Linked DNA regions of Homo sapiens: regions 1 and 3 are each linked to region 2. The links come from fine-mapping of genetic effects on gene expression. A gene starts in region 2. Each other region holds a variant in brackets. All regions are shown on one strand. Distances are between the middles of the regions. Region 1 overlaps FHAD1 (forkhead associated phosphopeptide binding domain 1). Region 2 holds the start of TMEM51 (transmembrane protein 51). Region 3 has its middle 7.9 kb from the start of FHAD1.

Region 1 (10,688 bases), 130 kb after region 2:
TGGAAATAGTATGTAACTTGGCTGTTCTGTGTTCTAACATGTATAATCCCAATTTCTGGAATGGAAAATCCTAGACATAATTGATCCTTTTCTTGGAGACTTAGAATTATTGCCCCATTTTGAATCCTGGCACCCGCCAGGGGCTGTTGAGATGGAGAAGGCTGTCTTCCTGGGCCGCACATAGCACCCTCTGCTGCCCTGGGGCTCTTCTGTCTGCGTTTTAGGGTCTGGCAGTCAGTTCCTGCTCTCTGCTGGGATCAGTGTGCCTCCTTTCCCCCTTCTTTCTTGCCCCTTCCTGTCCTTGTAATTGTGTAGTTATTAGGGTAAAATTGAGTAAGATCAGAGGAAGTAGAGGCTGAAAGTAGACCTAGAGGACTACCTGTATGAATAAGCGACATTAGTGGTTCCATGTGGATTTTGTATTATTTTTTTCTGGTAACTCAAAGGTCCCTTAAAAGAGTTTTGTTTTTGTTTTTTAATTAAATAACCTGGCCAGGCATGGTGGCTCACACCTGTAATTCTGGCACTTTGGGAAGTCAAGGTGGGTGGATCACTTGGGGCCAGGAGTTTGACACCAGTCTGACCAACATGGCAAAACCCCGTCTCTACTAAAAATACAAAAAATTAGCCAGGTGTGGTGGTGCATGCCTGTAATCCTAGCTCCTCGGGAGGCTGAGTCATAAAAATCGCTTGAACCCAGGAGACGGAGGTTGCAGTGAGCTAAAATCGCGCTACTGCACTCCAGCCTGGGTGACAGAGTGAGACACTGTCTCAAAAAAAAAAAAAAAAAAAAAAAAGGAGAGGGGAGGAAGGGGGCATTGATTAAGACTCAGCTCCACCTCCTGGTTGGGGATTACTTATGTGTGTTACATTCTTCTGTAAGGAAGTGTCTCTTCTCTGCCATTGAATTATTTACTCATTCATGTATCTATATCAGTACGGACTCCTCTGTCTTTATTTGATTCTCTGTGCTATAATCCACCTGATGTTATTTATTTTGTAGCTCATATTGTCCTAGCCTTGGCCACTGGAGCGCTTTTGGGTTGGTGCTTATCCCTCTAACAGGGCCCGCACCTTCTGTTTTTGAGCACTTACTCACTTTCTGCTGTTACAAGATGCCCCAGGCTCATAGTGTATTCTCCCTGCCCCAGCCCCAGAATCAGCTGAAGGGTATTTTTTAACTTTGGCTCTGTTTGCCAATTGTTCAATTCAGTTCGGTCAGCAGGCACCTAGAGTGTGTGCCAGGCCCTTCACTGGGCACTGGGTCCAGCCAGTGCTATGCTGATGAGTGTCTGAAAAAGTAAAGTATGCAGGTATAGTATAAAGCTTACTGACACAAAGAATGTGTAGCACATTCTTTATAAATAATAACAAAATATGCAGGACTCTTTATGGCAAATTTATCATAAATTCCATAGAGCCATTGATTCTCACAGAGGGTTTTTATTGATTTTTGCCAAACTCTTGTATCCCTAGCCAACTTATGGTAGCAACTGATGAATGTTTCCAACCGGAATACTGGTGGATATATTTGTTTACCTTTGTGAGTAAGACGAAAGTGAAATGAGAAAGATTTGTATTGGAACCTCACATGTTCATCAATGACATGAGCACCTTCTTTGCTATCATAGTTTATGAATACCAGAAGAAACTATTGGATAATAGTTTTTGAATATCAGAAGAAAATTTCCTCCATATCTTTTGTGCTACTCATAATGTGATGGCTACAGACATAAAACACTTTTAAATCTCATCTGTATTACTAATATTTTATCCAACACCTTCCTAAGAATAGACAAGCAACAAAACAAAAAATCAATCCCTGATTTGTAACATTCCCTGATTTCTGTGGTGTAAATACTCCCATTAATGCAGAATAGGCAAGCCCCAAAATTGGGACTTAGCCAGGGAGGGTTCTTGGCTTTGCCCAGGAAAGAATTCAAGGGCAAACCAGCAGTGTGAGACAGCACCTTTTATGGAAGCAACAGTGCACAGTGGCAGGAGCGGGGCTGCTACTTGCTCAGCAGGGCTACCCCATGGGCAGTGCGCCCAGAGTAGCAGCTCAAAGACAATTCTGCAGTCATATTCATATCCACATTTAATTACACAGAAACGAAGGGGTGGTTTATGCAGAAATTTCCAGGAAAAGGGTATTACCTTTCAGGTAGTTGGGTCATTGCCATGGAAAGGGGTGGTACCTTTTGGGTGTTGCCATGGCAATGCGAAACTGACATGGCACACTGGTGGGCGTGTCTTATGAAAAGCTGCTTCCACTGCGGCCCTGTTTTAGCTGGTCCTCAATTTGGTCTGGTGTCTGAGCCAAACCTCCAGAATTGAGTCCCACCTCTTACCTCACCATCCTGGCCAATTTCAAGCTTCACTAACACAGAGCCACAGAGAGCTGGGTAGCAGCACATCACTCTACAGCACTGCCAACACACAGACGCAGTAGGAAGAATAACTGTAAGAGCACAGATTATCATGAAATATAGTAAAATAATTAGGAGGCTAAGTTTTAAGTATTTATTACTGTTGTTTCTGGTATAATTTAATTGTAAGTATATATAATTTATTTTTTAATGGCTGTGTTTATCAGCCAGCTCACAGAATTCTCAACATTTACTCATCGGCTCTCATGAGCCAGCACCAACAGGCCCCAGCTCTCCTCTGGCACAGCAGTGAGCCAGCTACAGCCCTGCCTGGGGGGAGACTGCAGTTCTCTGAGTGGCATCCAGGGTGCTGCACATACCCTGTGACTCAGACTTGCAGGAGGGAACCTATAACGTTCCTGGAAAATCCTGTCCACACATCAATCCTGTCCATGCACCATCTTGGGGATTTTCACACCATCTATTTCTCATTTTCATTTTTTAACTCAGAAAATCTATTCTTCATTAGCCAATCATCTAAGATCCTTTTGCAAGTATGGAAAGCAAGTGCAAATCATGACTTCAAATGACCTGGAAGCTCCAGGGGCACAGAGTTTGGAGTCAGACAGCATCACCACTTCCAGGCTTCAGGACCTGGGGCAAGTCTCTGAACCTCACTGAGCTTCTGCTCCTTTAATGCACAAAATGTGGGTAAAAATGCTTCCCCTACCCCAGAGTTATTCTCGTGATTAGATGGGGCCACATATACAAAGGGCACAGCACAGCCTAGCACCTAGAGCCTTCTCTCCTTGGTGGTTCAAAGCCAAGTGGTAAGAATTGGAGGCCAGGCACAGCGGCTCACGCCGGTAATCCCAGCACTTTGGGAGGCCGAGGCGGGCGGATCACGAGGTTAGGAGATCGAGACCATCCTGGCTAATACGGTGAAACCCTGTCTCTACTAAAAATACAAAAATTAGCCGGGCATGGTGGTGGGCGCCTGTAGTCCCAGCTACTCGGGAAGCTGAGGCAGGAGAATGGCATGAACCCGTGAGGCGGAGCTTGCAGTGAGCTGAGATTGCGCCACTGCACTCCAGCCTGGGCGACAGAGCGAGACTCCATCTCAAAAAAAAAAAAAAAAAATTGCAGATAGCAGAAAACATGACAGATGCTCCAAGGGCAAGGTCTACTTCCCCACCTTGTCCACAGCCTCCAGGGCTTCCTGGAAGAATGCATGGGTCCTGTAGGACTCTGGGCAAACTCCCTTGGCGTTTTAGGGTGTCCTTCTCACCCTGAAGCCTTGACAGGGTCAGAAGCAGATGTTAGCGTAATAACACAAGAAACAAGGAGATCATCCGGAAACAATGGATTTGGAGTTCTCGAGTACATTACTGGTTGGGTGTTTATTCAAGCTGATAGAAATTCAGCCGTGGGTGTGGTCCAGGTGGTTGGCAGCCTGCTATTTTAGACAGTGTGGGAGAGATCAGGAAAAGCACATGCGGCCTCAAAAATAAACAAAGAAAAAACCACCACGCCACACACCATATGGTCAGAGAGAAAGAAAGAGGAGGAAAGAAAGAAAGAAAGAGAGTGAAAGAAAGAAGGCACTAGCAAGTATTTTTTAACTAATATTTCTAAGCCAGACTTGTTGATAACTGACCTTGATCCCAAACTCTATGTACATTCTAATGTGAGCTCAGCCAGGAGCCAGTTTTTCAGGAGTCTTTTTTTTATGTTTGTTTATCCTCCTCACTGTTTCCTTGTAGTTACCAGCAGCAATTTCTGAGAAAACCTTGACCTTGCTTATGATAGAGTAGGCCTGTTAAGTAGAGAAGACTGACATTAACCTTCCAACTAAAGCCACCCTAAATCAACATGCTTTCAAAAAACAAACAATGCCGGGCGCTGTGGCTCATGCCTGTAATCCCAGCACTTTGGGAGGCCAAGGCGGGTGGATCATCTGAGGTCAGGGGTTGAAGACCAGCCTGGCCAACATGGTGAAACTCTGTCTCTACTAAAAATACAAAAAATTAGCTGGGCGTGGTGGCACATGCCTATAATGCCAGCTACTTGGGAGGCTGAGGCAGGAGAATCGCTGGAACCCAGGAGGCGGAGGTTGCAGTGAGCCGAGATCACGCCACTGCACTCCAGCCTGGGTGACAAGAGCAAAATTCCATCTCCATAAATAAATAAATAAATAACAAAATAAAACTTTTTTTTTTTAACTGAAAGAGCTGATTGCAGTCTTTGCTGCATTTACACATCATGCACTGGCCCCTTTAGAGACCCTCTCATTAGCACTGTGGGGGCTACAAGTGACAAAACCAGCTCAAACTAGCCTCACAGTACTGAGCAGTTAGTGCAGGGTGCAACGCGAGCCAGGGCTCAAAACCAGCTTCTCTGTTTGTTCATTATGCACAATAGCCAAGAGGTGAATGCAGCCCAAGTGTCCATGGACAGATGAATGGATAAATAAAATGTGATCTGTCCATGCAATGGAATATTATTCAGCCATGAAAAGGAAGGACATTCTGACACATGCTACAACATGGGTGAATCCTAAGGACATTGTGCTAAGTGAAATAAACCAGTCACAAAAGGACAAATGTTGTATGAATCCACTTATATGAGGGACAGAGTATTTAAATTCATAGAAATAGAAGGGGAATGGTGGTTACCAGCGGCTCTGAGGAGAGGAGAAGGGAGAGTTATTTAATGAGAATATATTTTCACTTTTGCAAGATGAAAAAGTTCTAGAGATCTGTTTCACAGCCATTAGACTATACTTAAAAATACTGAACTGTACACCTAAAATGGTTAAGATGGAGAATTTTGTTATGTATTTTTTTACAATTAAACAAAAACCAGACCAGGTGTTGGGGCTCATGCCTGTAATCCCAGCACTGTTGGAGGCTGAGGCAGGAGGATCACTTCAGCCCAGGAGTTTGTGACTAGCCTGCACAACATGGCAAAACCCCATTTCTACAAAAAATACAAAATTTAGCTGGGCCTTGTGGCCTGCGTCTATAGTCCAAGCTACTTAGGAGGCTGAGGCAGGAGGATCACCTGAGCCCGGAAGGTTAGGCTGTAGTGAGCTGTGATTGCACCACTGCACTCCAGCCTGGATGACAGAGTGAGACGCTGTTTCAAAAAAAATGGAGAAAAGAAAACCACCTTCCCTCTCTCCACGTCTGGGCTGCACCCCTTGGTGCTGGCTACATTCTCAAGTCCCCAGTTCTCTGTGGCTAGAGATTCTGGTGTCCAGCCTAGTCTCCTTGGCTCTGATTGGATCACATGCCCCACCCCTGGCCAATCACTATGGCCACTGAATGTGATTTGTTGCTTAGCCCCACCCACAACAATTGGCCGAGAGAGGGAGGGAGATTTACCCACAATCTCCAAAAGATGCTGAGTGGGTTCTGGCCTGGCCACTGCAGAAGTGTTACCCTTGAGACAGGAGACACGCTCACTCCCATTAGCACCTGTGCAGTTAGTTGGCATGAGGCACCCTTAACTTAGAGCCCTGCCTACTGAATGTCCTAGCATGAAAGTAGATTCCTCCACCACACCCAATACTCTCTACCTTTGTGTTCCAGAAGGCTGGAGTAAAACGCATTGGAGTTTGCCCGCTGTCATCTTCAGCCCATTCATTCAATGAGTACTTATTAAACCCATAGGAAAAGGTCATGGGAATGAGTGAGGCAAGACAGCCCTGAGGATGGGGAAGGACATGATGGACGGAGAAGTCAGCCCAGGGCAGGGGCACAGTGGCTCAGCTTCTGAAACCAAAGAATGGAAAAGAGGGTAGGTGGAGAGGCTGAGATGTTGACAGTGGAGAGAAATGGGAAACTACACGTAAGGTAACAGAGTTCTGGAACTCGGCCCAGACCCACTCCTGAAAACAGACTTCAAGTGGGCCAGTGTCATTTGAATGCCTGGCCAGGTGTCCCCAGATGTATTAGTCCATTCTCACACTGCTATAAGGACATACCAGAGACTGTGTAATTTAAAAACGAACAGGTTTAATTGACTCACAGTTCCCCAGGGCTGGGGAGGCCTCAGGAAACTTACAATCATGGCAGAAGGGGAAGCAAAC[G/A]TGTCCTTCCTCACATGGCGGCAGCAAGGAGAAGTGCAGAGCAAGGGGGTGGGGAAAGCCCATTATAAAACCATCAGATCTTACAAGAAGTCACTCATTATCACGAGAGCAGCATGGAGGTAACTGCCCCCATGATTCCATTACCTCCCACCAGGTCCCTCCCAGTCCGTCCTAAGGGGATTTTGGGAACTACAGTTCAAGATGAGATTTGGGTGGGGCACAGCCAAACCATGTATCACCAGGTGATCGGAGTTTGGTGCCAGATTTCCCAGAACACTCCTCACTGACTCCAAGAAAGAGCCTTAGGGGGAATGCATAGGATCCCTGAGCAGCTGTAGACAGACTGCAGCTTGGAGATTAGGATCCTGAGTGGAGAGCCCTCCTTTTCAATGAAACCCAGCTGAAGTTCTAGGAAGTGCTGTCTGCTGGAGCTCTGATTTTGGAAGCATTCTGTCCTTTTCCTCATTGTGTGTGTCTGAGCTCATCTTCTCTCTGGGCTACAGAAGGAGAACCATGAGCCCTGGGAAAATAGGGATGAGTTCTATTCTAGGAAGCAAACCTTTGAATTTAGCTCTTACCTGGAAAGCATTATTTCTGCCAAGACAATTGGGAGACAGAGGAGGGGAAAGAGAGAGAGAGAGAAGAAGGAGAGGCCATCAGATCTTGATCCCAGTTCCCTGTCCACCACTGCCTGTGCTGGGTAAATCCCTTAACCTCTCCAAGCCTCACTTCTAACAGGAATAAGGAGAACCCTCACACAAAGGGTCATGGTGAGGAATCAATAAGCTCGGTGCAATAAGTGATAGTGCTCATCAGTGCCACCTTCAACCACTAGGCACCAGGGAGAAACCACCACTAAAGCATTAATCCACGGCAAAAGCCAGGTGTCAGCACCACTCCACGTTTGCTCATCCACGGTTAGATGGATTTTGACATGCTCTCCACTGAAAGCAGCTGGAGCATCTTCCCCGGGGCCTCTGCCAGAATCAGCTGTGCTGGTGTGGAAAAGCAAAGGCTAATCAGACAGTCAGTGTCCCTGCAATCCCAGAGCTCTGAACTTTGAGGGATAGAGGGACCCACAGTATGGACAGAAAGAGAAAAGGCTGTGGAGTCCCAGGGAGCTGGGCTGGAATCTCAGTGATTGGCTTGTTCTGTTATTTTGACCAACATTTGAGGACCTACTAGGTATGTGCCAAGCATTTATTCTAGGGGCTGAGGATACAGTGGTAAGGTAGATGAAAAGTCCCTAATCCCTTAGAGGGGACATTCTCCTGACTCAGCAGATCAATACCACGTCTGTGGGTGTTCAGAGTCCCTTGTTCTTGCCTGGCCTGTGTCCTCCGAGTGTTGATATCACAGAGTGTTGAGTGTATTAAATGAGTTAATGCAGGTGACTCTTTCGGCAAGATGCCTGGGTAAAGCATGCACTCACTCAATGGTGGTGTGATCGTGTGCCGTGTGGTCCAGGCAAGGACCCCCATCCCAAACTTGAGGAGAGTCCAGGAAGGCTTCCTGGGGGAAGTGACTCATTGTTTTTTTGTTTGTTTATTTTTGAGACAGAGTCTCATTCTGTCGCCCAGGATGGAGTGCAGTGGTGCTATCACAGCTCACTGCAGCCTCTACTTCCTAGGCTCAGGTGATCCTCCCACCTCAGCCTCTCAAGTAGCTGGGACTACAGGCATAGGCCACAAGGCCCAGCTAATTTTTGAATTTTTGGTGAGGCAGGGTTTTGCCATGTTGTCCAGGCTGGTCTTGAACTCCTGAACTCAAGCTAGCTAGCCTCCCACTTTGGCCTCCCAAAGTGTTGGGATTATAGCTGTGTGCCACCCTGCCCGACCGGAAGTGACTCATAAACCAAGACCTTGGGCAGCAATGCTGTGGCTGGGACAAAGAAATGGAGACCATCCCAGCCGGTCATAACCTCCCCTGACCCTTGTCTGCCCCTGCAGGTCTCTTTCCCATGGATGAGGGGCCCAGCACCATGGCCAGGGCCACAGCCACCTCGTGCCACACAGCAGCCAAACCAGGCCCCCCCACCATCACATATCCCCTTCCACCAAGGTGTCCAGCCAGCACCGATGCAAAGGAGCTGGTCCCAGGCCTTTCCCAGACCCACCGTGGTCCTGCCGGCCTCCCACAGGCGGCCTGTGAGCGCCAACAAGGAGATGTTCTCGTTCGTGGTGGACGACGCCCGCAAGCCACCCGTCATCAAGCAAGGTATGCGTCAGGGCTGCCATTGGTGGCTTGGGGGTGGTTCACGGCCATGTGGATGGGTCTTGGTTTTGGTTTACTTTCTGATTCTAAAAGTAGAACATATTCAATTGTAAAAAATGAAAATAAATTCAGGATAAGCAGAAAGTAAGAAAACAGTTAAAAAATCAGCCGTAATCCTTATCCCCAGGGTCTCCCTATTGACTCTCTGCTGCGTATCCCTCCAGCCTCTGTGCTGTGTCCGTATACACACACCAGGGCACCTGCAGTGGGTGTGGCCTCTGTGTGTGTGTACATATGAGTGTGTCATGGGATCACGTCAACACACTTTGACTCAGTTGTGCAAAAATATTAGTAATTGCAATCCCCTTTGCCCCCAACAGCCCTAGGAGCTTTTAAAATATTTTACCACCATTTTACAGGTCAGAGGAGAGTGACACTTACCAGGAAGATGACTTCTCCCGAGGAAGTGTATTCAGTCCCGTCTAATCTAATGTTTTTCAGTCCCATTTAAAGGCTGGTGAGCTCGGTGACAGCCCACTCACAACCTGGTCACTCTGGGACACACACAACCTTCAGGGTGTCCTTCCTTCCCCACTACCCCCTTGAAAGCCTCATGGCACTTGGGGAGGAAACTTCCCATCTGTCACTGTCCTCTTGGCCTCAGCAGCCTCACCAGCAGAAGAGCTGGTCAGTTTAGTCCCCAGGCATGGTTCCCAGAGTTCCTCCCTAGCCTATGGCATCAAGGTCCCATTTTCTGTCCTCTTTGTCCCAGCCCCAGGCCCTTCGGAGTCCCCAGACATCTCCCAGCGGCTTCCATATCTTTTTCCGGTCTTGCTCAAGACCATTCATGTAGTCACCTTCCTCAGTCACTAAAATCATTATTACTGTGACATACGCAAGCTGAAGAGTAAAGGCCATGTGTCTCCACGGTTTACATCATCATCACCGTCATCATCAAATGCACCACCACATACCTACCACCCACACTGAGAAATGACTCAGCCATTTTCCCCCAACATTTTAATATGAACTTTTTTTTTTTTTTTTGGACGGAGTCTCCCTCTGTTGCCCAGGCTGGAGTGCAGTGGCAGGATTTCGGCAGTGGTGCCATCTCAGCGCACTGCAAGCTCCGCCTTCTGGGTTCACGCCATTCTCCTGCCTCAGCCTCCCGAGTAGCTGGGACTACAGGCTCCTGCCACTATACCCGGCTAATTTTTTGTTTTTGTATTTTTAGTAGAGATGGGGTTTCACCATGTTAGCCAGGATGGTCTTGATCTCCTGACCTTGTGATCCGCCCACCTCGGCCTCCCAAAGTGCTGGGATTACAGACATGAGCCACTGCGCCCAGCCTTAATATGAACATTTTTTAAACATACAGCAAAGTAAAAATAATTTTACAGTGACCCCCTCCCCACCTAAATCTACCATTAACATTTTACTATACTCTTTTTTTTTTTTTTTTTTCTTGAGACAGAGTCTCACTCTATTGCCCAAGCTGGAGTTCACCTTCTGGGTTCAAGCGGTTCTCCTGCCTCAGCCTCCCAAGTAGCTGGGATTACAGGCACACACCACCATGTTCAGCTAATTTTTGTATTTTCAGTAGAGACGAGGTTTTGCCATGTTGGCCAGGCTGGTCTCAAACTCCTGACCTCAAGTGATCTGCCCACCTTGGCCTCCAAAGTGCTGGGATTACAGGTGTGAGCCAACCACGCCTGGCCCATTTTGCTATACTCTTATTGTATATCTCTCTATCAATCATTTTGTGAATTCATTAATTCATCTTAATTTTAGATACATTTTAAAATAAGTTTCCTACAGCTGTAGACTTCCCCCTAAACATTTAGCACGTATACCATTAACTGGAGTTCAACAGTTTTTGTCTTTTTGTGTAAAATTAACATACGGTGTGTATTAGTTACCAATTTATAACCAATTACCCTAACATATAGCACCCTAAAACAAACCAAAACCCTATGCGTTATCTTACACAGTTTCTGGGGGTCAGGCATTTG
Region 2 (10,688 bases):
ATCATGCTGAGGCTTAGAGGGAAGTTTCTACAAGCTGGAGCACAAGAGGAGATGGGGTGATAGGGAGGTAGAATTGCTAGCTGGCTGTTCTCAGGGGTCTCAAGAACTTGTACCCCAATGCGACGATGTCCTCAGAAGCTTCATTCTGGGCTGTCTACACAGGTCCAGTTACACTGGTAACTCAGATAGAAACACATTTCCAGAATCAACATTTTTCAGCAAACGGGACAAAACTGTTTTATTTAAACTAATGGTCCAACTATCCAATTTTGCTTTGCGCTACGTGAGCACAATTTGTCTGCCACACAGACCTGATTCAGCCTTCAGTGGGGCTGGGCCAGTATATCACCAGTGAAACCTACACGCAAGACACATCCCTTCCCGGTGACTAATGTGCACCGTTTCAGGAAAAGGCCAGGTTGAAAGTGCACATACGTGATTTACTGCTGACTTTGGCAAGAGTCATACAGCAGAGACACTGCTCAGCTCCTCACAGGTTTAGAAATAAGCCCACATTAAGAGTAAGTGGGGGCTGGGCGCGGTGGCTGACACCTGTGATCCTAGCACTTTGGGAGGCCAAGGCAGGTGGATCACTTAAGCCCAGGATTTTGAGACCAGCCTGGGTAACGTAGCAAGACCCCCATCTCTACAAAAAAATTTAAAATTTAAAACTTAGCCAGGTGTGGTGGTGCATGCCTGTAGTCCCAGCTACTCAGGAGGCTGAGATGGAAGAATCACTCGAGTCCAGGAAGTGGAGGCTGCAGTAAGCAGAGATTATGCCATTGCACCACAGCCTGGGTGACAGAGAAAGATCCTGTCTGAAAAAAAAAGTCAGTGGGAAGAGAGAGTGACCTGCTCAGAACCAAGCAAGGGTAAAGAATGACAGATGGCAGAGAACAGAGCAAGCAAGGGAGGATACAGGGACAGATAATAGGAGGATATGCTCCTGGTGGACAATACAGGTGGTTTCCAGCCAACTTTATTATTAACACATTCTCACTAAAAAATAAAATTACCTCCCCAACACACACACACCCCCCCTCAGTTTCTAAGGGTAACCTGTTTGGTTTGATTCCTCCCATAGTCTTTCTGTACATAATCAAATATATGTATGTGTGTCTACATCTTTTTAAAAAGTCATTTGTGAGCCAGGCATGGTGGCTCATGCCTGTAATCCCAGCACTTTGGGAGGCTGAGGCGGGTAGATCACTTGAGGTCAGGAGTTCAAGACCAGCCTGGCCAACATTGTGAAACCCCATCTCTACTAAAAATACAAAAAATTAGCTGGGCGTGGTGGTGTACGCCTGTAATCCCAGCTACTCGAGAGGCTGAGGCAGGAAAATTGCTTGAACCGAGAAGTCAGAGGTTGTAGTGCAACCTCTGCACCACTGCACTCCAGCCTAGGTGACAGACACTCTGTCTCAAAAAAATAAAAAATAAAAAAAGTGGTTTGTGTAGTATCATCATATTTAGTGCCTTTCTCGGTGAATGATATAACTTGGACGTTCTTCCATGTCAGATAGCTCTACCTCATTCTTTCTGGTGACTTCATAGTGTGCCAGCATGAGTCTATGCCACAATTTACTTAGCATAGCTCCTAGTGCTGGGCATTGAGGTTGGTGACCACTTTTCACCGTTACAATTAATCAGCAATGAAAACCCTTGGACGTTCTGTTCCTGAGCACATGTGTGAGTTGTTCTGCATGATGATCTATTTCTATAAGCTGATTTTCCAGCCTCACTTTCATTGATGTGCCTGGAAAGTCAGTAGCATGACAGACTGGGGTCTTGGTCACTAACCAGGGACAGTCGAATATTTTAAAACTGTCGTTATTTACCCATTCAGCCAGAAAGAATAAAAATGTAATGCCACGGGAATTCTCAGAACAGCATCCTCTCCTCTTTGAATTCAGGCTTTCAGAACTAGACAGGCTAATGCTCCCACAACTCATGTTCAGGCCACACTGGGTACTTTGTCACATACTAGTTCACCTGATCCCCGAGTTGGTCCTGGAAAATAGGTATTATTAGCATAGAAATGCTAATAATTTTTTTTTGACACATGAGGAAACTGAGGCTCAGAGAGGACAAGACATCTGCCCAGGGTCACACAACTCACAAATAGCAGAGGATTCAGAAACCAAAGACAAAGGTGATGGAATCCTGCCTTCTTTCTAAATCCGTGATGTAGGCTAGATCATGGTGCCTCTTCAGAAGTTTACAGTGGACAGTTAGCCAAAAAAGCAGGTGAAGTGAACATCTGCCTAGGTGACTGAGTTTGCAGGATGTATTAGTTTCCTCCCGCTGCTGTGACAAATTGACCCAAACTTCATGGCTTAGAACAACACAGTGAACTATCTTCTTACAGTTCTGGAGGTCAGATGTCCAAAACGGATCTGCAAATGCCTTCCCACCTTCAAATCATAAGGCAGACCCAAACTTGCCTTTTTGTGGATGCCAAGAGCTCCTTCTGGATGCTCTGGCTGACACTCCATTCCTTTCCTTTTCTAGCTCCTAGAGGCTGCCCACATTCCTTGGCTACTGACCCTTGTCCAGCAACTGTATCATTCTGATCTCTACTTCTATCACCACATCTCCCTCTCTAACTCTGACCCTCCCGCTTCCCTCTTGTAGGAACCCTTTTGACAACATTGGACCCACCAGGAAAATCAAGGATAACCTCCCCGTCCCAACATCTTTAACTTGATCCCATCTGCAAAGTCCCTTTTGCCACGTAAAGTAACCAGTTCTGGGGATCAGGTTGTGAACATCTTTGGGCAGCCATTATTCTGCCTATCACAGAAGGGGGTTCCTAGCTTAGTGATTTAGAGCAAGGGCCCTGCAAAGACCCCAGATTCAAATACTTTGTCACTTGCTAGCAGATCCAGGTACCTAACTTCTCTGAGTCTTAACAGCCTCATCTGAAAAACTAGAATAATAGAATCTTCCTTCTAGGGCTGTTTTGAAAACCAAAGAACACAATGTATGCAGTGCACGTGAAACACAGGGTTCAATAAATGGTAGGGAAGATTCAGAGAAACTAACCATGTAGAGGGAGAGGGCTGTGGAGGAGAGGAGGATAAGGAGAGGCATGCTTCCTTTGGTAGCTTCTTCAGTTTTGCCTGGGCCTCAGCTTTGCCTGAGAATTTCGTCAGTCTCTCCCCAGATCAGCCAGGGTGAGCCTGCTTAAATGGAACACTCTGAAGATGATATCCTGTGATAAACAAGACCTGCCCAGTTGAGTCTGCAGCAGAGTGGGGCGGGTCTGGGATGACCCTGGCATGGAAAAGTACAGCAGCTCTTTGTCTTCAGATTAGGAGCTGGGACAGCTGTTCTGACATGATCACCCCCCGCCCCCACCCCAGGCCTCTCCAAAGTCCATCTTGCAGAGTCAAATGAAAACCAGATTCCTGGTCTTATCTGAGAGCTACGTGACTGTTTCCTGTCACTCCTTTGGAGCCTGGGAAGGTCCCCACATGCATTGTCTAAACTTTGGGATGAATACGCACAGCTCTTAAATGGGAGCATATTATTATAGGTACCTGCCTACACAAAGGGTCCTCCCTATTCACTAAAATCATGGGTTATTATTTAGGGCTTTCATTCATCCAACAAATGTTTATTCCGCATTTGCAGGTGGCCAGGCAAGGTGAACATTCTCTCAGGGTGGAGAGTATGTGCAGACAGGAGGAATTATGCTATGGGAGGGAGAGCAGAAGCTCTGGAGTGGATCATCTTGGGTCTAGATCCTGATACTTCCCAGCTGTGTTTTCACTGGGCAAAATGACCTCACCTCCTTAAGCCTCAGCCTTCTCTTCTATAAAGTGGGCATAACAAATAACCGCCTCCTAGGTTATGAGGATTAAATGAGATGGTTCAGGGGATGTGGGTGGTAACCCCGCCCCTGGTTCATAGCAAGGATGTGAGGAATAGCAGTTGCTGTCATAGACATGGAGACTGTTTCCCCAAATGCCTTCCCACCCCCAAATCATAAGGCAGACCCAAACTTGCCTTTTTGTGGACGCCAAGGTTCTGTCGAGCTGTTAGGGTGCAAGTTAAGAAGCCAGAATGGCGGGCTGAGGGGAGAAATGCCCGCATGTTACAACTCTGCAGGTGTACACACGTGGACACCATATGTACCCATGAATTCCGCCTTTGGAAGTGAACTTGATTGCAGCCTATTTTCGTCTGGAGGCGGTGGATTCCCGGTAGGAGGCGCCTTCAGTCCTCGGCTCGATCCTGTGACGCCAGCCAGCTGCCTATCGGCTTCTCAGTGTTTGAACTTCAAAGGGCTGGACGCTCACCCAAGAAGGGGACCCCGGCCTGACCTCTCTCGGAATTCAAAAAAATCTAAGGCTCAGAGAGGGAATGGGAGCTGGCTCTTCCCTCTGTGTTTAGCATCCACGTTTTTTGGCGGTCTGGCTGAAACCAGCCCACCCTAGTTCGGGCGCCAGAGCAACGCAGTTCCGAGGGCAGATCTCCAAGGGGCGGAGGCAGAGCCGCGGGTGAGAGGCTTCCGCGCCGACTTCGGGTTTGCACTCCCCGGAGCCAGAACTCCGTGGCGGCTCCGGGCCTCCGTGGATCCGAGCAGAGACTGGCTGCCCGCCTGCCACTCGCAGGCTGGGAAAACGCCAGCCGGTGCCTCGCCGGGAAAGTTCTCGGCAAAGCTGGGGATGAGCCCTCAGCAGGGCAGGCTCCCGGTGCAGCGCGCCCCCATCCATTGCCCGCGCGCAAGAACCCGGAATGGGCCCCACCTGGGCCGGGACTCGGGCGTGCGATCCCGAGGGCGCCCTGGGGACCACGCATCGGGTGGGGACCCTGGCCGAGGGCGTGAGCTGACTCAGTTTTTAAAAACTCGCTTCCTCCTTCCCTACTTGTGCCGGTCACTCACCTCGCTGGGAACCAGCCCAGGGCAGAAGGGGGAGAGGGAGGCGGTGGCCTCCCCAGGAAGGAGGAGAGGTGAGTATCCCGCCAGGTAAAGGCGGGGCGGCTGGCGGAGCTGTGCCTCGGCGTCTGCGCCTGGTGTGGGAGGAAAGCGGGTCTCCCAGCTCCACTTAAACCCCTAAAACCTGGGACTTCTAGCTTGAGACATTCCCCGACCACCACCCGTCACACACACGCGCGTGCGCGCACACACGCATGCACACCGATTCTCTGGGCCCTAGGGAGGAGGGGGGATCAGGGCTCTATTTTCTCCCGACCCCCTCTTATCCAACTCGGCTGGCAAGGGTTGGGGAGAACTTAGGCCCAGCCCCCGGCACACGCTCAGCGCGCTCCAGCGGCATACGCTGGGGAGTGGGTGCCCGCCTCGCTCAGCTGCGATCCCTCGCCTCGGGCCCGGGGGTGGTGCCGAGGGCCGGGAGGGAGGGTCGGCCGGTGGGCGGTGCTTCTCCGGGCTGGAGGCCGCTCCTGGCCGGCACCGCCCTCCGCCTCCCGCGGTCCCTCCCTCCCGCACGCCGGCGCTCCCAGGCCGCGCTTCCTGCGTCCCCAACCCGGTCCCTGAGAGGGCAGTGCGCCCTCTCCACCACTGCGTTCCCTCGGCTAAGAATCCCCCGAACCCCAGCCCCGCGATCGCGGCGCCCACCGAGGAGGCCGCCCGGGTGGGGCGCGGGGGTCGCGAAGCCCGCAGTCCCGGACCGCCCAGCCGAGACGGAGCCGGACCCGCCGCCTCCCGGGTGAGTCTCAGCCGCCGCGCCTTGCGCCCGCTGCTTCCCGCGGCGCGCTGTCGGTTCCCCACAGGGCCGTGTAAGGGGGCCGAGGCCCGTTTGGGTCTCCTGTCCGTCCGTCTGTCCGCCGAGCGCTTCCCGCCTGGGGTCGACCACCGGGAGGACTCCGCACCCCGCACCCTCTGCGGCCGCGCCCCGCCGGCGCGGGACGCTCCCGCCTCCCGGGCACCGCGCCTGGCCAGCTGGCCTCGGCTGGGGAAGGCAGCTGGCCTTGGGGGCCCCCTGTTGGCGGGAACAGGTGCTATCCGCCCGGCGGGCTTCGAACCCTTGGCTTCGCCAGAAGCGCTTTCAGCGCGTGGTTAGGAGCAGAACTTCCCAGTAGGTCCCAGGAAACCACCTTGGCGCTTTGCTCGCGCATCCCTTACTGTATGGAAGTCGGGGCCTTTTAGGGATTTAGATTCGTGTGTGTGTATGTGTGTGTGTCGCTCTACAAGCAAACACGGGGGTAAAGAATCGGGCATGAGCAAAGTGGATTGAAACTCGAGTCCTTCCCTGAGCGCGTCGGTTTCTTCATCTGTGAAACTGACATGACAACGTCCCAGGGTGCGGCGGGGCATTCATGCCCAGCACCCAGCAAGCACTCAGCGGTAAGTTACGTTACCGGGCCTAGGGGAGAGCAGAGTACAAATCAGATCTCAAATCAGCGCACAAACGGGAGGCGCTTGGCCCGGCGCGCCTGGTCTGCATTACAGGATAATGGTCTCTTTCCCAACCAGCGGTGGGGGCGAGAGACCTGGCCCCTCCCCCACGGTTTCCCCAGGGAGCAGCCCGTGGGGTGTCCTGCGCAGCGCTCCGAGGTGCCTGTGACGGTGCATGGGACTGCGGGTCCTTCCCAACAGCAGGGGAGGTCTGGCTGCTGGGAACCCGGGCGCTGCCGGAGTGGGGTGGGCGGGGACGAGGTGGGCGGGGCAGGGACCCGAACCGGGAGGTAAGTCAGCGGGTGGAAGGCTTTCCCCTCTAGGACCGGCCGGCTTCTGGCTTTCCTTTTGAATGGGTTACCCGGAGAACAGCTTGTCTAGGGAACTGTTGGCCCTGGGACCGTGAACAGCTTTCACACCCCGGAAACCTGTCACAAGAGGATCCTGACCTATTGGGACAGAGCCCCTGCCCCTCCAAATATCTCACTCCACCAATTGAGAGGTACCCCCAGACTGGGAGAAAAGGCCAAAGAAAGAGAGAGGAGGCTAGTGGTGAACCTGCTCCTCACGGCTTCGGAGCTGACAGCTCTCTGATGGGGTGTCTGGGGCCTGCCCCAGTGACCCAGAGCCCAGAAGCCTCAGGGAGCCCCCAGCCTAGTGAGGGAGTCAGGGATACTCATGAAAAGTGTTGCAGAATTGGCGATACAGTCAGGCCACACCACTTGCTGGCTGTGTGACCTGACCTCTCTGAGCCTCAGCTTCTTCATCTGTAAAATGGGATGATGATCTCCAAGGGCGAGGTGGGGTATTTATGCCTAGCACATGAAGTATTCTATAGTAAGTTATGTCACAGGGCTTAGACGAGAACAGAAGAAAGGAAATAACTCAGGAGGTCCTGCTAAGAAAAGAGTATTAGAATATTCATCAGGGAACTGGAGTCCCCCCAGGGAACAGGGGAGGAAGGGTGTCTGGGCAGATCGAACAGCACAGGCAAAGGCACAGCGACAGGAGAGTGCCTGGGGTGTGCTGGGCTGGGGAAGGTGCTCAGGCAGTGGAGGGTGTGGAAAAGTAAAGGGAATGGAAGGTCCGGAGTGAGCTGGACTGGACAGGTGGGGGCTTTCTTGGAATCATTCAACATATGTTGGCCGAGCACCTTCTGTGGGCCAGGCGCTGTTCTAGGTGCTCAACAAAGATGAACAACATGGAGAAAGACGTCCCTTTCATTCAAGTTCTCTAAGCAGGGAAGTCGTCTGATCCCATCCATATGTTAAGAAGATAATCCTGGCTGCCTGGAAGTTGGCGAGGATCCTAGAGAAGACTCCTAGGAGAGAGAGGCTGGCCTGTGGGTTGGTGGGGGCAGTGGGAATGAATGGGGGAGCTGGAGGAGAGGCCCATACAGGAAGCAGAGAGTAATGTGTGGCCTTCACTCATGACTGTTGGTCAAGGGTAAGATTCTGGGGTTCTACATGAGGCCCAAACTGCCAGCCTGGTCCCCTGCCAGAGAGAAGTAGTGAGTGAGTGTCTGGGGTATTGGCAGGACCCAAGCCCCTCCAGCTGCGACTCTCCGGCTCGCTGGCTCCAGATGTCACGAGGCCTGGGAGTTTCTCTGTCTGCGTGAGGGATGGGAAAGCTGGAGGCAGAGGCCAGCTGGAGCTTCTGGGGCTCCCGTTTTAATAGGTTGTGTTTCTGGTCAACGTTCCTCCCTCCCTCTGCAGGCCTGGCTGTAAACCCCTCAGGCTTCTTGGGCTGGAAGAGGCCAGAGTGTGAGGAGCTTTAGTGTGGATTCTCTTCCCCCAGCCCCAAATTAAGGTGGGAGTCATGCAAAAGAGAAGCATTGTCTCCCTCGGTGCTGGGAAAGTTTCAGAAGCTCAGGTGTCTTCTGACTTGGGATGTGGTATGGGGGCTGCTGACTTTTGCTTTCACTTTTGTTTCTGCTCTGAAGCTGGGAGGAATCCTCCTCTTGCAGCGAAAGCTGTGAGAATATCCTTCTCCATGCTTCAAGTCTCCCTTTGCTTGGAGGGAAAAGGAAGGTCCTAGAATGTCTCAGGTGGAGGGGACCTTCAGGTCATCAGAGACATCATTCTCATTTGACAAACAAAACTCAGAGAGGGGATGGGACTTACCCAAGGACACACAACAGTTCAGCAGCAGAACTGGGACTGGAACCCAGCCCTCCTGACTCCCTTCTAGGGCCCTTTACTTTAACCCAGGAGACCTGGCCACATTCGGGACCAAGACTGTTTTGGGCCCCAGGTTTCTCAACCTCTCAGTCTTTCAAGCGGCTTCATAGAGTTGAGCTCCTCCCCAGCCTGGACAGGTGGTGCAGCCTCCCCTGCCAATGTTTTATTCTCCCTTCCTCTGGATTGAGCCCTCGCTGCCATGGCCACCCCTCCTGGGAGCTCTTGCTCCTGAGAAAGAAAACAGGCCGTTTGTTTGGAAGAAACAAGCCACCTGTTTGGTTTCCCAATACCAGGCCACACAGCCCTGTCCCTCCCAGACAGCCCCAAGATGCTGACCAGAGATAGCCCTCTGAGGGTCTCTGCTGAGCTCCCCTGACCCTCGACTCCTCCCCTCAGCTCCCGTCTCAAGACTGCTGGTTGGTCCTCACCTTCTGTCTGTGGTGTTTACTTGGGCGGAGCAACCTAAAGTCTCCACATTCTCTCTTGCCCTGGATTTATCAGACTTAGCAGCCCTTAAACCTGAATGCGTAGCTTCAGATCTTAGAATATCGGGGCCAGAGGGATCTTAGCCATCAGAAAATCCACTCTGCTTATTTGACAACTGGGGAGACCAAGACCCAGGGAAGAGGAGATTTGCCTGAGATCACAGCCAGGACCAGAACCCGAGGTTCCAGAGTTTGTCTTGAATGATTTTGAGGATGATTCTTGAAAAACAAAACAGGGCACCCTCCCCCTCCAAGATCCCCTTTCTGTCTGCACTTCACACTACCAGGTGTTTTTGTGGCATCCGTGGTGACATGGTCAGGAGGAGTAAGGGCCAAGGGTCCTGAAAGATGAGGTGTGCACATTGAGGAGTGTGTCTGCGCATTTCCAGGTCCTGTCTGTTCAAACTGGCATTAACACCACGGCATGAGCTAGTGAGTGCATTTATCTGGCACTCCCTTAGCCAGACTTGATAATGTGTCTTTGGATGGCAGGCTTTTAAAGTTGTCTTCGTCCACAGATTACAAAAGAAGTAGGTGCTCCTTGTAAAAACGAGCAGATGACATCGTGAAGGCTGGCGACCACTGTTAATATGGTGGCGTTTTATTCAGGTTTTTGTTTGCTGAGCTGTTTCATGTCCTGGTTTGTTGTTGTTGCTTTTGAAAAAATAGAGACAAGGTCTCTGTGTGTTGCCCAGGTTAGTCTTGAACTCCTGGGCTCAAGTGATCCTCCCACCTCAGCCTCCCAAAGTGCTGGGATTCCAGGCAAGAGCCACTATGCCCAGCCCGTATCCTGGTTTTTCAACTCGTCATTACAGTGCCTGTTATCTTCATGAGATAATGTGAGTGACTTCACGCAGGATCTAACCTGTAGGTCTCACGTGCTTCCACCCCTTGATGGCTAGCAGGTATTCCCTTGGCCAAAACCCTGTGACGCTGTGCAAAGTGCAAAGACGTTTCCAATTCACCACTGTGGGAGTCCAGAGGGCCGTTTTTCTGCATCACCATGGGGTTTGGGAAAGCAATTCTCTCTGAACTCTTAGAAATGGAAGCCACGGGCCATCTGGGTGTGATGCGTGTGACCCAAATTCATACAGAGGGAGGGAGACAGCTTTGTTTCTTCTGACTTTTATGTGTTTATTTTTGCTGTGTTTGTTTTAACCCATCCAAGTGCCGCCACCCCACCATCACTGCCCCTTGCCCCAAATCTCCCTGGGATTAGGCATGGGGTTAGGCAAGTTGCAGGTCTCTAGAAAAATCGGTATTTGGCATGCTCATCTCCAAACCCTGGCTCTTGCAGAGTAGGCGTTTCAATAGCAAAGATGTGCAGAGAATTTGTTTCCTAATCGGTGATTCAGGTAGGACACCCCATTCTGGGAACAGGATGGGGCGGGGTCTCTGTCTCTCTCTACCAGGATCACAGCTTTGTTAATGCCATAAATCATCAGTACTGGAAGTACTCGTATCTTGGGGATTTTCTAAGCTCATGTTCACAGAATGGACAGCCACTTACTAGTGGATTTGAGCATCGTTGAGTGGTTTTCCGCTGGATTTTTAAAAGTGAAGTAGAAGACAGTGGACTAGAAAATAGCATGCATTTCCTGTCACGAGAAATATTCCTTAGTAAAACTTTCAGTTATCTGTTTGTGGATGTGCACTGAG
Region 3 (10,688 bases), 86 kb after region 2:
TGGGTTGATTCCATGTCTTTGCTATAGTGAACAGCACAGTAATGAACTGACAAATGCATGTGTCTTTTTGGTAGAATGATTTATTTTCTTTTGAGTATATACTCAGTAATGAGATTGCTGGAGGACACCCAATTTTTTTAAGTAAGTAGTCCCAAAGGAACATACACACACACACACCATAGGCAGAGCTAGCTATAACCAAAGTATAAGCGAATGAGGAAGCCAGGAATTCCTGAGGATAAATACCTCCATCAGTGTGGAGAGTTAACAGGTACAGGAAATAAGAAGTCAGACCTCAGGCCTTTGCAAACTGAGCTAGCAAAATCTACAATGTCCATATTAAGCCAGGACCTTGAAAGGTGCTCTACCTCCTGAGAAAGGGAAGGCTTTAAGTGTATTTTTCTGGACTGCCAGAAAAGGGAGCGCATGGGCTCTGCAGGGTTTCTGGAGGGGAAAATTAACAATGGCCACCATAATAATGACGATTGTTAACCCTGAGGATTCGTAACCACATGGTACTAGGAATTAGTTTAACACTCCGTGCATTCAAGGGGGAAACTCCAAGCTGAAGAAGTAAATGTAAGGGATCACAGGTTGGTAGCAGCCCTGGCATCCAAATGAAACAAACAAAAATCATTCCTAGAGGAACGCAGCCAGAAATCAGACTCCTCAGGACTCCCGCAGATCAATTTCAATCAACACTGAGATCACATTCAAATTATTAACCCTCCAAGAAACAAGTCAGTATGAGCAAGAGTGAGCAGAAAGAACAAACAGTAGATTGAGACACTTCCTCGCACCCCAAGGACATCAGGTGTTGGAATTCCCAGATACTGATTCTACTTTGTATTAAATAGTTTTTAAAAGAAGGATTTAAAAATGAGCAAGGAATGAGATGATCAAAAATGGCCAGGCTCATCATCTGTAATCATGAGAGAAATGCAAATCAAAACCACAACGAGATACCATCTCACAACAGTCAGAATGGCTATTACTAAGAAGTCAAAAAAACAAACAAACAAAAACCAGAAGCTGTAGAGGATGTTGAGAAAAGGGAATGCTTATACACAGTTGGTGGGAATGTAAATTAGTTCCACCACTGTGGAAAGCAGTTTGGAGATTTCTCGAAGAACTTAAAACAGAGTTACCATTTGACCCAGCAATCCCATTGCCAGGATATACCCAAAAAGAAAAAGACCATTTTACCAAAAAGACACATACGCTCCTACGTTCATCGCAGCACTATTCACAATAGCAAAGACATGGAATCAACTTAGGTGCCCATCAATGGTGGATTGGATAAGGAAAATGTGGCACATATACACTACAGAATACTACGTAGCCATAAGAAAGAATGAGATCATGTCCTTTACAGCAACATGGTTGCAGCTAGAGGCCATTATCCTAAGTAAATTAACAAAGGAACAGAAAACCAAATACCGCATATTCTCACTTAGAAGGGGGAGCTAAACATTGAGCCCACATGAGCATAAACATGGGAACACTCAACACTGCAGACTACTTGAGGGGAAAGGAGGTGGGGGAGTGGGTTGAAAAAGTACCTATTTGATACTATACTCACTACCTGGGTGCAATGTGCCCATGTAACAAACCTGCACATTTACCCTCTGTATCTAAAATAAAAGTTGAATTTTTTTTTTTTTTTTTTGAGGCAGAGTCTCACTCTGTCGCTCAGGCTAGAGTGCAGTGGTGTGATCTCAGCTCACTGGAACCTCTGCCTCCCGGGTTCAAGCGATTCTCATGCCTCGGCCTCCAGAGTAGCTGGGATTACAGGCACCCGCCACCACGCCCGATTAATTTCTTTATTTTTAGTAGAGACATTTCACCATGTTGGCCAGGCTGGATTTGAACTCCTGACCTCAAGTGAGCCGCCGGCCTCGGCTTCCCAAAGTGCTGGGATTACAGGCGTGAGCCACTATGCCCAGCTAAAAGTTGAATTTTTTTAACGGCCAGGCATTTGACCTCAGAACTTTGTGGGAACACAGGGAGAACTACTTGACCCCTGTACTTTTAGCACTTCCATTCTGGTAGGATAAACAGATCCACATAATCAAAATACATCAGGGGTAAAAACTCAAGCAGTTATAGAACAGAGAAGGAATAAGAATAAGCGCGGCGGACAAGGAGGACACAGGCTGTACCTGGAGGCGGCAGCCTCTCCACACGCCTCACAGATTGTTGCTCTGTGTGCAGGAACAGAGCCCAAGTATTGCCTGATGTTCCAATTTCCCCAGAAAAGACATAAATCCAAATTGTAAAGTAAGTCAACGTGATTTGTACGTTAGCCACTGCAGGAGACACCTGAAGCTTCTGCCACCCAATATCAATTCACCTTTCTTCTAAAATATTACGGTGTTATGTATGATTCCCCTTTGGGGACCACCCCCTTTCCTGTTCTCAGCCCAGTCTCAGTCTCTTCCTGGTTGAGTTGACTCCATCTCCGGCTGCAGGGATGGGCATGTGACTCAAGCTTGGCCAATCAGAGCACAGCAGTCCCCCGGACCACACTAATTGGCTTAGAAACGGGCCTGTGAGTCAATCAGAGAAAATGAGAAGCCATGAGGCCTTTGGGAGAATCTTAGGAAAAAATTCTCTCTCATCCCCTTGGGATTCAAAGCTGAGAAGATGTAAGGACTGGAGCTGCAGCAGTCTTTCTGGGACCATTATACAGAGATTCTGTCTGAGGTTGGATCCACGTGGTCAAAAGTATTGCTGAGGAGCCAGAGAGAGACTGAGGTCTGATGACATCACTTGAGCCCTGCAGACTTTTCATTTACGGTAACCAGTTAATTTGCTTTCATGCTGAAGCTAGTTTGAACTGGGCTCTGATATGGTTTGGCTGTGTCTGCAACCAAATCTCATCTTGAATTGTAGTTCCCATAATCCACACATGTCGTGGAAGGGACCCAGTGGGAGGTAATTGAGTCATGAGGGCGGTTACCCTCGTGCTGTTCTCTTGACAGTGAGTGAGTTCTTGGAGACGTGATGGTTTTATAAGGGGCTTTCCCCTTTTGCTTGGCACTGCTCCTTGCTGCCGCCATGTTAAGAGGGACGCGTTTGCTTCCCCTTCCACCATGATCGTAAGTTTCCTGAGGCCTCCCTTGCCCTGCAGAACTGTGAGTCAATTAAACCTCTTTCCTTCATAAATTACCCAGTCTCAGGCAGCTCTTTATAGCAGCATAAGCATGGACTAATACAGGCTCTTTATCACTCCACAGAAAGAGGCTGTATCCTCCATCAACTAGTTGAAAGTATTTTAACACACTGTGAAAGCCAAAGAAACATGGAGGCTGACTGTGGCCTTCAGTTTGCAGTCTCAGCACCTGGCCCTGCCTCCCTCTGTCCCACGGTTGCGTAGCCTCCCTCATTCCCCATCTTCCAGCTCTTGTTCCCACTGCTCCTTCCTCCTGCAATGCCTTTCTCTTCCTTCTCTCCCTCCTGAAATCCTACCCATCCTTCAAGACCCAGGTCAAGTGATTCCTTTTTCTCAAAGCCCTTCCTGACCCCACAAGCTCCACCCCACGTGGAAGCACGTCCCTCCCTCTCCAACCCCAGCCCCTCAGCCCCTGGTGAGCACTCGGCCCTTCTACTGAGAATCCTAGTGACCCAGGAACATTACTGTCCCCCTTGTTTCTTGACAACGATTCAAATTCAGAGCCAGATTAGAAGGGACAATCTTTGAGACTTAAGTTTCAAAAAACAATCAGTTCTTAGGAGAGGTCAGAAAACACGGTGAAAGGTGAGGATTTGGGTAAAGTATCAGAAAGAAAAGAACAGTTGTTCTCGAGAAAAGAGAGAGTCTGTGTTGAGTGCTGTAAGGAAGGCAGAAAAACTGGACATGTTTAGACCAAATAAAATGATTCAGAGGAAACCTGAGAAGAAATGTCCAGCGTGAGGGGATTGATCAGCTCAGAAAGGAAGATCAGCAGCGAGCGATGGGGATGACCTGAAACAAAAGCAAAATGCCTAAGATAGGAGCACTGTTGGCCAGGCGCGGTGGCTCATGCCTGTAATCCCAGCACTTTGGGAGGCTGACATGGGCAGATCACGACGTCAGGAGTCCGAGACCAGCCTGACCCCTGGTAAAACCCTGTCTCTACTAAAAATATAAAAATTAGACAGGCATGGTGGCGCACACCTGTAACCCCAGCTACTCAGGAGGCTGAGGCAGGAGAATTGCTTGAACCCGGGAGGCAGAAGTTATAGTGAGCCGAGACTGCACCACTGCACTCCAGCCTGGGCAATAGAGTGAGACTCCATCTCAAGGAAAAAAAAAAAAAAAAAAAGGAGCACTGTTGAAATGAGAAGAGAATGCAGATGGCAGTGAGATGCTACAAAACCTCCAGAAACCCAGAGAGGTGACAAGGGCTGAGGTCATCTCAAACTAGACCAACAGGGAGGCCTGCTGTTGATTGGAAGCAGCTTTCTCAAAAGGTAGGAATCATGTTGGCTTGCTGTTGATGGAAACTCAGGGCCACCAAGGCCTTCTGGAATTTGCTATTCAATAAACAGACACAAGGGAGGGCACAGGAGGCCAAGCAGTGGCTAGATGTGCCAAAAGAGCCACCATAAGTCAAAGGACAAAGTGAGCAGGGGTGTCAGCTTATAAGCCACCCCAGGCAGAGACTGTCTCTCTTCTCACTTCCTAAACCCTGCCAAGCACCACAGAGCCTTGTACACAGCCCCTGTGCCTCCTTCCCCAGGCCCAACTGTTTCTTTATAGGATAAATCAACTACCCCAGACCACGTCCAATCAAAGAGGCTCTTAACCTTTGCTGGGGAGAAGTCTGGTTAAGGCTCTGGGCCCTCTTTCCAGAAAAATACACATAGGCCCAGACACATCAAAGCTTCCTCCCAATTTCAGTGGTTCACACCTTCCCTGAGGCCACCAGTAGGTCTTCTTGGACAATAGTCCTAAACTCCTTCATTCATTTACTTTAAGAGACGGGGGTCTCACTAAGTCACCCAGGCAGGAGTGCAGTGGCATGATCATAGCTCACTGCAGCCTTGAACTCCTGGGCTGATGCAATCCTCCTGCCTCAGCCTCCAGAGTAGCTGAGACTACAAGTGTGTGCCACCATATCCAGCTAACTTTTTTATTTTTTGTAAAAGCAAGGTCTGTCTATGTTGCCTATGCTGGTTCAAACTCCTGGGCTGACATGATCCTCTCACCTCAGCCTCCCAAAGTGCTGGGATTACAGGCATGAGCTACCATGCTCAGCCCCTAAACTCATTCATTTATTTAAATCCTTATTGAATGTTGGCTGCATGTCAGGTACTGCTCTGAGCACCAGGGATGCTTGGGTGAACAAGAAAAGGATGGCCGGGTGCACTGGGCCATGCCTGTAATCCCAGCACTTTGAGAGGCCGAGGTGGGCGGATCACTTGAGGTCAGGAGTTTGAGACCAGCCTGGCCAACATGGTGAAACCCCGTCTCTACTAAAAATACAACAAATTAGCCAGATGTGGTGGTGCATGCCTGTGGTTCCAGCTACTTGGGAGGCTGAGGCAGGGGAATCGCTTGAACCTGGGAGGCGGAGGTCACAGTGAGCCGAGACTGTGCCACTGCACTTCAGCCTGAGTGACAGAGCGAGACTCTGTCTCAAAAGAAAAACAAAAAGAACAACAAAGAACCTTCACCACATGGAGTGTAGCTTCCAGGTTATATCCCAGCCATCCAACAATCAGAAAGTCTGGAGGTACAGCCCAGGAACAGTGATTCTGACATGGGGCCAGGTTTAGGACCTCCTGTTCCAAGGAACTCCTGGTCAAACTCCTTCTGTAAGTAGAGAGGGGAGAGTAATATTTGAAGGCATGTGCTGCGACTCAAGTATTCATGCACTGCTGGGGGGTGTAGATTGGTACCAGCGCTTTGGAAAAATGTTTGTCAGAATCTTTTAAAGCTGAACATCTGCTGAATCTGCAACTCAGCACCTCTATTCCTAGGTCTATATCTAA[T/C]AGACATGTGCACATATGCATACCAACGGACATACACAGTGGCGCCCAATTACCTCTGGTGTTCACACCTCTGTGGTATCCTCTCCCTTGAGTCGGGGCAGGACCTGTAACTTATTTTAAGCTGTAGAATACAGCAAAGGTGATGGGATGTAATTTCTGTGATTATGTTACATAAGATTATAACTTCCATCTCTCTATTGAGAGTCTACTGGGGGTCCAGAGTCGCAGACTCTGTCTACTGACTCTTACTGACTTTGATGAGGCAAGCCAACTTCCAGAAAGGCCCACATGGCAAGAAACTGAGGGTGAGCTCAGCTAATACCCAGCAAGGAGCTGAGGCTCTCTTTCTGATACCCTCAAAAAAACGAATCTTACCAATAACAATGTGAGCTTGAAACTGGATCCAGCCAGGTGTAGTGGCTCATGCCTGTAATCTCAGCACTTTGGTAGTCCAAGGTGGGAGGATCGCTTGAGCCCGGGAGTTCAAGACAAGCCTGGGCAACATAGTGAGATCTCATCTCTATTAAAAATAAAAATTAAAAAAATAGGCTTAGTGGTACATGGCTGTGGTCCCAGCTACTCAGGAGGCTGAGGTGGGAGGGACACTTGAGCCTGGGAAATCAAGGCTGCAGTGAGTTACGATCACATCACTGCACTCCCAGCCTGGACAACAGGAGAGACCCTGTCTCAAAAAAAAAAAAAAAAAGAAAGAAAAAGAAAAAAGAAAGCAGATCGGGCCGGGCGTGGTGGCTCATGCCTGTAATCCCAGCACTTTGGGAGGCCGAGGAGGGTGGATCACAAGGTCAGGAGTTTGAGATCAGCCTGGCCAATATGGTGAAACCCCTTCTCCACTAAAAACACAAAAATTAGCCAGGGGTGGTGGCACTTGCCTGTAGTCCCAGCTACTCGGGAGGCTGAGGCAGAAGAATCGCTTGAACCTGGGAGGCAGAGGTTGCAGTGAGCCAAGATCATGCCACTGCACTCCAGCCAGGCTGACAGAGCGAGACTCTATCTCAAAAAAAAAAAAAAAAAAAAGAAAGAAAGAAAGAAAGCAGATGCAGATTTATCCCCAGTTGAGGCTCAGATGAGATCCCAGCTTGGCCAGCTCCTTGATTGCAGCCTGTGAGACCCTAAAGCACAGGACCGTGCTGAGCCCTGCCCAATTCCTGACCCACAGAATCTGTGAGATGATAAATGTGGGTTGTTTTGAGCTGCTAAGTTTGTGGTAGTTTGTTAAGCAGCAATTGATAACCAATACAATGGAATACGACAGAGCAATGAGAATGAATGAACCACAGCTACTTGAAGAGACATGCTTGACTTTGGGAGATGAAAAGACATCTCCCAAACATAACGTCAAGCGAAAGAAACCAGACAGAAGATGGAATTTGTAGGATCCCATTTACATAAAGTTCAAAAACAAACAGAACTGGCCAGGCGCAGTGGCTCACGCCTATAATCCCAGCACTGTGGGAGGTGAGGCGGGTGGATCACCTGAGGTCAGGAGTTCGACTTCCGGACCAACATTGTGAAACCCCACCTATATTAAAATACAAAAATTAGCTGGGCATGGTAGCAGGTGCCTGTAATCCCAGCTACTTGGGAGGCTGAGGTAGGAGAATCACTTGAACACGGGAGGCAGAGGTTGCAGTGAGATCATATCATGGCACTCTACCCTGGGTGATAAGAGCAAAAGTCTTGTCTCAAAAAAAACAAACAACAAAAAAACAAACAAACAAAAAAAACCCAGAACGAATCTATGACATTAGCAGTCAGGATAGGGGCTACCCCAGGGGGTGGGTCATGACTGGAAGGGGTCACAGGGAGACTTCTAGGAGTGCTGGTGATGTTTTGCTTCTTGATCTGGATTCTGGTTAGGTGGGTGAGTACACTTAGTAAAAATTCAAATGGTGTCTCAGCCCATTTGTAATGCTATAAAGTGCAATTATGACCTGAGACAAAATGTATATTTTCAATATGTATATTATCTTCGATAAAAAGTTTACAAAAAGGCCGGGTGCAGTGGCTCACGCCTCTAATCCCAGCACTCTGGGAAGCTGAGGCGGGTGGATCACGAGGTCAGGAGATCGAGACCAGCCTGGCCAACATGGTGAAACCCCGTCTCTACTAAAAATACAAAAAGTAGCCGGGCATGGTGGCGTGTGGCTGTAGTCCCAGCTACTCAGGCGGCTGAAGCAGGAGAATCGCTTGAACCCGGGAGGAGGAGGTTGCAGTGAGCCGAGATCGCACCACTGCACTCCAGCCTGGGCAACAGAGCAAGACTCCATCTAAAAAAAAAAAAAAAAAAAAAAGTTTACAAAAAGTACAGCACTTTGTAATCTGGCAGCCAGAGTTTGAATTCCAGAACCACCATGTGCAAGATTTGTAACTGGTTAAGTTACTTGACTTTTCTGTGCCTCAATTTCTCTTTCTGTATAATGAGTTGGGCTAAGAACTAAATAAAACTGTGCATGACATGGTGGTTGGTACCTTGTTAGCTTTAATAAATATGAGCTGAATTTGTTAACCACATTCATAAAGGTTCACTGTCACTCAAAAAAATATAGTGAAGGTTTGCCCACATGCCTGGAAGTAGAATTTATGGAGTTGTCCAGCAGGTGCCACCCCATAGAGACTGCTGGGTTCCCAAGAATCACCTCTAGTTGTGACTAGAGGAAGGAGCACATCCTATCTCTTATATCCATATCCACATATAGAAAGGTCTCAGAGCAGCCGGCCAGATAATATGAGACTAGTCATCCAGAGATCAGGTTTGTTCTGGAGTAGGACTGAGTCTTGATGCAAATCAAAGTTTCTCCAGAGTGTTTGTGACCTGGGTTGAGATTGGGGCTCTCTTCGCACAGCATCAGAGAAAAAGAAAACAGGCAATAATCGTAAACACTCATAGAGCCATTCAGTTGTACCAGCCACTGATCCATTGTTTCATACGTCTTAACCCATTTAATCCTTTCAATAAAATGGATTGTTGTATACCCATTTTACAGGTGAGGGAAGTGAGGCACAAACAAAATACAACAAAAACCAGGCCCAGGACAGGTGGGGCCAGCACACTTTGCAGTTTTTGAACGGATGGTACAGACAGACCCCCCCACAGCAAAGCGCAAGGAACCAAGGGGAACTGACTTTGAAAAATGATTTGCAAGATAACTGAATGCTCCAAACCAGCATGAAAGAGTCGACATGAGACGAAGCTCCATATTTTCTCATTTTCTGCCACGGGAAAAGGCAAGGATGGCTGCAGAAAGCCTCAGTTGCCAGTTATTCTCTCCATGGTTTGAAATTATTTTCATGAGTCTCTGTGTGTAGGTCTGTATATAAAAATCTGTACTTTCTAAGCTTATATGGTCAGGTTACTAATGGGCCGTGGAGTCTCTAGTGGGCCCTCTGCTCTCTGTCATCCGTCACCCTGCGCAACAGCTTGGCTATTTCCTGCACTCTTTACTCTCTTGTTCTTGCTCTTTCTCTGGCTCTCTTTCATGCCATAGAGGCTGAGGAAGCCTCCACACCTCTCCTGGCCGCGGCTGGGGCCTGAAGCCAGCATTCATTTCATGTTGGAATGCAAGGGCAGCAGGAGAAACATCACACAGTTCTCTGAGGATGGAGCACAGGGTTAGGCTCTCCCCAGGCAAGAACAGCCCAGAGAAGGTGGCTGGGAAGGAATGAGATTTTACGGGGGCAGAAGTTCTGCAGGAACGAAGCCTAGTGCCCAATGTCAGCAGGTAATGTGGGTGGCAGGCCTAAGCTGCCTCCTCTGGGCTTATGCCCCCTTCACTCCCTGCCCTGGGCACTGCCTGAACCTTTGGACAGACAAGAGTGCAGGCTGCTCAGAAGTGAGAGAAAGCAGTTGTGAGTAAGTGGCATCTTGTGATTGTGACAGCTGTCACCTGTAGTTCCCCAGGGGAAATACCTTCCTTGTCACATTCATCTCGATTCAAATCCTGCCAGATTTTCTAGCTGTGTGACTTTAGGCAGATTTCTCCCTGTCTCTGAGCCTTATTTCCTACAATATGGGCTTCGTCGTCACCAAGAGTTCAATAAAAGGTTAACTGTAGGCACTGCCAAGAAGCACAAGTAATCTAGAAACATCTATTTTTTTTTTTCAGGGACAGTATTTTTAATGCCGCATCACTGTTTAATTGCAATGTACAACTCTCTTACTCAGCCCAGGAAATTATATCATAAAACCCTAAGTTATTGGGTATTTGATTTTCTGTTTTTGAAATGAAAATGGATGATACGGAATTGGGTTTCAAGAACTTTGCACACCCTTGAGATAACAGTGGCATCCTGAGGGACAGAGGATCCAATTAAGATTTGGCAACTTCGGCTCCACTGATTCTGAGTGTCAGCTTTGCTCTCAGTTTAGGATTTTTTGTTTTTCATTGAGATATCAGCTAACAGCAACAGATGATCTCTCAAAGCCTGGTGAGGGGCATGGGCTGTTCCAGCTCATGGCCAGCCTGGGTTTCACTGGGGTCTGTCTGATAGCAAGTTTGTGTCCTGGGTTCATGTTAATGACAAGAGTTTGACCAAAGACAAGCATGGAGGGGTGGTGGTAGGGATGGAGGTGGTGTTCAGGCCTGGGCAGGGGACTAGAGAAGCCGACATCCTGGGGCGAGGACAGGTCAGCCCAGCAGTCCTCAGAGGACAGGAGGCCGGGCTTCAGAAGGGTGGCAGGGGCTTCCCCC

The links. PIP is the estimated chance that this variant, and not a neighbour inherited with it, causes the effect.
Region 1: its variant is the best candidate, but not a certain one, in a credible set for the expression of TMEM51 in monocytes after LPS (Fairfax 2014, PIP 0.87).
Region 3: its variant is the best candidate, but not a certain one, in a credible set for the expression of TMEM51 in monocytes after LPS (Fairfax 2014, PIP 0.79).

The regions. Positions count from the first base shown.
Region 1 is chr1:15,280,988-15,291,675 of GRCh38, forward strand. It overlaps FHAD1 (forkhead associated phosphopeptide binding domain 1), which reads left to right. Exons shown (of 34, transcript NM_001391957.1): 4 at 8,412-8,679. It overlaps LOC124903853 (a long non-coding RNA gene), which reads right to left. Exons shown (of 2, transcript XR_007065482.1): 1 at 10,664-10,688; 2 at 6,369-8,762. Among named protein-coding and RNA genes, the nearest start is that of FHAD1, 39 kb to the left of the region's middle. RefSeq lists an enhancer at 7,912-9,111. The variant G/A (reference allele first, on the strand shown) is at 6,463.
Region 2 is chr1:15,148,280-15,158,967 of GRCh38, forward strand. TMEM51 (transmembrane protein 51) reads left to right here and starts at 5,468. Exons shown (of 4, transcript NM_001136218.2): 1 at 5,468-5,675. TMEM51-AS1 (TMEM51 antisense RNA 1) reads right to left here and starts at 4,185. Exons shown (of 5, transcript NR_027136.1): 1 at 4,012-4,185. RefSeq lists silencers at 5,291-5,560, 5,621-5,670, 5,761-5,940 and enhancers at 5,650-6,311, 6,091-6,180, 6,312-6,973.
Region 3 is chr1:15,233,963-15,244,650 of GRCh38, forward strand. It overlaps a transcript of FHAD1 not described here. Among named protein-coding and RNA genes, the nearest start is that of FHAD1, 7.9 kb to the right of the region's middle. The variant T/C (reference allele first, on the strand shown) is at 5,980.